Regions from separate parts of the Homo sapiens genome. Here region 2 is linked to region 1. Evidence: fine-mapped QTL for protein levels in blood plasma. A gene starts in region 1. The other region holds a variant in brackets. All regions are shown on one strand. Distances are between the middles of the regions.

The links. A credible set is the group of variants that fine-mapping cannot tell apart. PIP is the posterior inclusion probability: the model's chance that the variant is causal. Protein levels are from antibody-based Olink assays in UK Biobank. Linkage for the fine-mapping came from a reference panel and not from the study's own genotypes, which makes the PIPs less certain.
Region 2: its variant is the best candidate, but not a certain one, in a credible set for the plasma level of the PPCDC protein (UK Biobank, PIP 0.73).

What each region holds. Positions count from the first base shown.
Region 1 is chr15:75,021,782-75,024,681 of GRCh38, reverse strand. It overlaps PPCDC (phosphopantothenoylcysteine decarboxylase), which reads right to left and starts at 1,092. Exons shown (of 6, transcript NM_021823.5): 1 at 1,056-1,092.
Region 2 is chr15:75,047,930-75,050,776 of GRCh38, reverse strand. PPCDC (phosphopantothenoylcysteine decarboxylase) reads right to left here. Exons shown (of 6, transcript NM_021823.5): 5 at 2,056-2,224; 6 at 51-1,627. The coding sequence ends at 1,542. Among named protein-coding and RNA genes, the nearest start is that of PPCDC, 26 kb to the right of the region's middle. The variant G/A (reference allele first, on the strand shown) is at 2,661.

The sequences.
Region 1 (2,900 bases):
AAAAAGAAAAGAAAAAAGAGTATACAGGAGGGTGATGTGGTGGCTCACACCTGTAATCCCAGCATTTTGAGAGGCCAAGGAAGGAGGATAGCTTGAGCCAGGAGTTTGAGACCAGCCTGGGCAACATGGTGAGACCCTGTCTCTACAAAAATGAAATAAAATAAAAATTAGCCGGGTATGGTTGTTTATGCCTGTGGTTCCAGCTACACAGGAGGCTGAGGCAGGAGGATCCCTTGAGCCCAGGAGGTCGAGGCTGCAGTGAGCCATGTTCCTGCCACTGCACTCCAGCCTGGGTCACAGAATGAGACCTTGTCTCAAAAAAAAAAAGTATACAGCAATCCCCTGCGGATACTGAGGGATAAATGTATCTAACACACACACTCACACACGTGGGCTACTAGAAAGGCAGTGACTGCGAATTGCTACTTCCCAGCCACTGTGAGAGATGTGGAAACCCCTGCTCCAGGACAACCACCACTTCCCCAACTTGGCAACCTCTCCTGCTCACCATCTAGCACCTGCTTCCAAATACTTCAAGGACAGCAGGAAGTTCTTTTCTGACAAGATTTGGCCTAATTTTTAAATAGCACTCAGCACTTTTTGGCAGGCCTAGGGCTACTTCCAACATCCCATGGCTTTCCTTTTTTAATTTTACCAACTTTTTAAATACACTTTGTACTTTGGGCAGCCCGGGTAAGCGTTCAGTGTGAGGAGCTGACACGGCCATCATTTAAACTAGATTAAACGACACTGGACAAATAATCGCAGAGCAGCACAAAGTCGGGCTGGACGGGTACAGATGCAAACCCTCCACTCAGGGCTCGGGGGTCCCTCCTGCTCCAGGCGGCCCCACCCGTACAGCCGGGAAAGTGAGGTCGCACAGATGGACGGCCGCCTACCCACGCACAGTCGCAAACAGAGCTTCATGGGCACACAGGGGAAAATAAGGACACACACAGACAGCCGTGGACCCACGCTCGCGGACACAGCTCCCCGAACCTCCCCTCCCGCGCCGCCGCGAGAACCCAGCTTCCCAGCCCCCTTCCACTGCTCACCCGCGCCAGGCGCGTCTCGGGGCCGCTCCCAAATATCGCGGTATCTCTGCCGCTCTCCCGCGGAATCTGACTGGCACGCCTCACGAGAGCACCGGGCTGGCTGTATGTCGCGCAGCCTTCTGGGAGCTGTAGTCCACTTCTCTGCCTTCCGGGAGTTGTAGTCCACTGGGGAAATCCTGGAGCAAACCCTGGCCCTGTTCTTTGTATTGCTGGGACTCTCGATAGGGGCTGGCATAACTGTCCGACCTCCTTTCCTCACTCCTATCAGCCCCACACACACTGCTTGTTGCTTGGGGCCTTTTTTTTTTTTTTTTTTTTTTTGCTGTTGTCCCAGGTTTATTGAAAATATTACAGTATCTCAAAAAGATTCAAACAGCTTCCACGTGGCGTTTTGAAATTCATCCCCACTGTTGGCTGAGTGACCTGCAGGTTGGACAGACTGCCAAAGTCCAAAAACATCAGCATTTCCTTAATGTCAGGATATGTTAATACTTCAATGATTTCCTGATCCAGGGCTGAGACCTCAGGAACATGATTATCTCTCCTTTCTCTCTTCTCCTCCTGCAACTTGATGCAGATACCTCTCACTGAGCGCTTCAAATCAGCTTCATCACATGCATGTTGTAGCCTGCTATCTTGTTGGGGAGCTGTTTTTTTTTTTGTTTTTTTTTTTTTTTTTGAGACAGGGTCTGGCTCTGTCACCCAGACTGGAGTGCGCAGTGGTGCTATCTCCACTCACTGCAACCTCCACCTTTTGGGCTTAAGCCATCCTCCTATCTCAGCCTATGGAGTAGCCAGGACTACAGGAGTGCACCATCATGCCAGACTAATGTTTGTATTTTTTGTAGAGACGGGTTCTCACTCTATTGCCCAGGCTGGTCTCAAACTCCTAGGCTCAAACAATCCGCCCACCTTGGCCTCCCAAAGTGCTGGGACTACAGGAGTGAGCCACCACGCTCGGCCCTGGGGAGCATTTTGCTGGAAATAATGGTGATCTCCTTGCACATGTGTTGTTTGTGTGGAAGTTGCTGCCCGGGTGTGTGTATTACTTTTTTATGACGAAGTATAGAAAAGGGCTATCTTCATGGTATTAGTGTGAATGGGGCCCATGTTGGCAGGTCCTTAGTAAAAGAGGGCTCGTGGCACTTAATATTTACCAAGCCTCTTCTATTTTAGGTGCACAGGATACAGAGATAAATCAGATGCGTCCCTGTTCTTGAGACAAACAGGGACACAGAAAATGACAGGGTAAGATCCTCCATGAGGAAGCAACACCTCTAGGCAGGAAAGCCTTCTTGAAGGAGTGACTTGAAATGAATCTTGAAGGACAGCCAGGAGGTTAGATAGAGGATCCCAATAGCGATCCAGGTGGAAGGCATCAAATGGGCAAAGGGAAGGCGGCAGAAGAACACACACTGGCATGCTTCCCTGCCCCCTTCATTTTCTAGCCTTCACAGGCCCCAGGAACCTCTGTATTCATTGAGGTGGCTGAACCAGCTGCGGGTCCCCTGCCCTGAGCTGAGGTGGGGCCTCTGCTCTACCCCCGCCCTTAGCCGCAGTGGACCATCTGGGCCAAACCATCCCTTACGCAGGGATCCAGCCGTGTCTTTTTTTTTTGAGATGGAGTCTTGCTGTGTCGCCCAGGCTGGAGTGCAGTGGTGCGATCTCGGCTCACTGCAAGCTCCGCCTCCTGTGTTCACGCCATTCTCCCGCCTCAGCCTCCCGAGTAGCTGGGACTACAGGTGCCTGCCACCTCGCCCGCCTAATTTTTTGTATTTTTAGTAGAGATGGGGTTTCACCGTGTTAGCCAGGATGGTCTCGATCTCCTGACCTCGTGATCCACCC
Region 2 (2,847 bases), 26 kb before region 1:
TCTCCCCATGCCCCATCCCCAAACCAGCCAAAGAAGTTGGTTCTTGATGCTACCATTTTAGTTATAGTTTATTTCATACCCTAAGGCAATTTTATCCCAAAGGGTCACCTGGTGAAGTCAAGTGCTGTTGAGATAAAGGCTGTGGAGGCTGCTGGAGCACTGATTCCAGCCAGTAGGCTTCCTGGTCCCCTCAAGGCACCTCTACTCTCAGTGCTCTCAGAGCCCACATGGGATGTCCCTCACACCTGGCCTGGAAGCCAGAGGGCAGGAAGCCAGCCTCAGCCTCAGCTCCAAATACGCAGACAAGCCCTCCCCGCTGCAGCCACACCAAATGGCAATTAAGTCAAAAGCTGGGTAGCAGAGGGTTTCTGGGCCAGAGTGCATGGTGTCTCTGGATCTACTTCCCTTGGTCATGTGTACTGGGGGGTAGGGAGGCACAGACACCCAGGCCCCTGCCTCAGGTCCAGCAAAGCTGAAAGGATGAGAACAGAGGAAACCAAGAAGCAGGCAAGAGGCCTGGGACCCAGGGCAGGGTCAACCCTCCTGGCTGCTTACCTGTCACTTGCATAAAGGGATGTGTCAACTTAGCATCCAGGATTTCCTTTTTCCCAAAATGAGACAGGGCATTGCAGTAAATGCTAGGAAAGCTCTCTGGCATATATGCATGCCTAGTTTTAACTTCCATTGATTTGACATTTACTACGTTCCAGGCACTCAGTGGCATGGGTATTCTGCACACAAAATTTCACTGAATCCTCTCAACAACTCCCTGAGGGTAGGATAACAAGATAGCTGAGGTAAGTGAAGGTCAGGAAGGCTAAGTCCTGAACCAAACTGCCACTGCTAGTAAGCGGCAGAGCTGGGATTGGAACTAGGGGCTGTCTGGCTTCAGATCTTTATCCTTAACCACCATGTTATACGGGGACTAAAGAGTGCCGGTGAGTTGTGAACCCAGACCCTTCCCCAGCCACACCTGGCAACACCCCCTGATCTCTGGGACCACAGCTGGGTTGTAGGGAAAGAATGGAGTCTCCTAAATGGTGATTTTTCTTTATTTCCCCGCACCTTCAATCTCATGGCATGGTCTGCAGGAAACCTCAGAGTCCTGCCAACTCGCAGGCTTCGCTGATCGCATGGCACCTGGGCACCCCGCCAAAGAGCTGAAACTCCCAAGGCTCAGCCAGGACTCTCCAGCTGTGGTGTTTCTAAAAGCCGTTCTGGGTGAGATGTAGAGCCGAGTTTTCCCAGTCGCTCAGTCCTCCTCCCGTGAGGACAACACTGCTTGCTCTCCTGGCTTGCCTCACCCATCCAGGAAAAGGTGGGGAGGGGCTCTAGGCAGCGGCCTCTCCTGGTTGAAAGAAACTGAGACCTGGGCCTTCCGTCCAGTTTAACCTGGAGCAGGCCTGGCCCCTGGGCAGGCTCAGAGCAGGTCCCCCATTCAGCAAATGAGGGTATCCTCCTATTTTGCCAACATCCATCTTCACCGACTTGGCCTGAACCCATTCTGAGTACAGAGGGACACCCATGACAGAAATCCCAGGTCAACTCTGCTGGAAGCCACTGTGCTGGAAGAGGACTTCTTTCACTTTGTCCACGATGGTCCCCACTTCAGCCATGGCCCCGAGACCTGGGAGCAAAATTCCGCTGTGGCCAGACAGGCCAACAGTGCCTGTAGCCCTGCAGACCCCTGCCCATTGCTCCAAGTGCTCCACCCAGAGCCCAAGGCCTGAGAGGGCAAGGTCTGTCTTTGCCTGAGCCAGACACATCAGATCTCTCCCAAGACCCCTGGCAAGACCCTGGGACTCGTTCCAGTAGCCATCCTTAACTGCGTGTGGGCTGCGTGCCAGGGACTCTACCAGGTACTTTACACATTCCACCCCATTTTACCCTACCAATCTGGAGGCAGGAATTACGATTCCCATTTTCCAGCTGAGAAAGCTAAGCTCAGAGAATGGTTTGCTAAGGTCATTAACAGGCCAGGAACTGAACTGAGATATGACCCCAAAGCTGAGCCCCTTCTACAGCCCTGGGCTATAAGCCTGGCAAGACACCCACCTTCATCTCCGCACACCAGCTTCTTGGCCACACAGGGGATCTCGACATAGCCAAAGGCCTTGAGCTGGTCTACCTGCTGCGCTGTGATCGGGTGCTCCCACATGGCGGTGTTCATGGCCGGGCAGAAGAGCAGGGGCTTGCTGCGGTCCCAGGCCCGCATGACGCAGGTCTGTGAAGAAGGCCAGGGAAGTGGGGGTCTTGCTACTCTGTCTGCCACCCTCCCCACCGCCCTCCAGACCCTGCAGCCAGCAGCCCAGCTGTAGGCTTGAGATGACTGGGCACAGCCTGCCTGCAGGGAGCTGTCTCATCCCTCAGGGGTGGGGGCTATGTCTCCTCGCCTCTCTCCACCTCCCCACAGGCTCTGGCACAGGATCCTACAAACAGGAGGTGCTCAACCAACGCTCAGACCTCCAGCAGGTATCCCTGTGCCTAAGCCTCCTCCAGGTAGGCTCACACCTCCTGGGAAAAGCAACCCTGGGGAGCAGAAGGCAGGCTTTTTTGGTTGCACCAGAAAGCAAAGGACCAGGCTGCTCCTCAGGTGGGGCTCATCTACTTGACATCAGCTCTCCGAGGCCAACTAAAGTCTGGCAATGAAAACATCTGCC[G/A]TTACCAAAACCTTCTCATATATAGGATCTCATTAACCCTCACTGAGACCTTATAAAGAAGGTGCTGTCCCATTTCACAGATAGGGAGCTGCTCCCTGAGAGGTAAGCAGTCATCCACGCCCACACCCGGACAATGGGCACCACCCAGGCAATGTTCCACTGCACAGCCTCACCATCTCCCAAATCC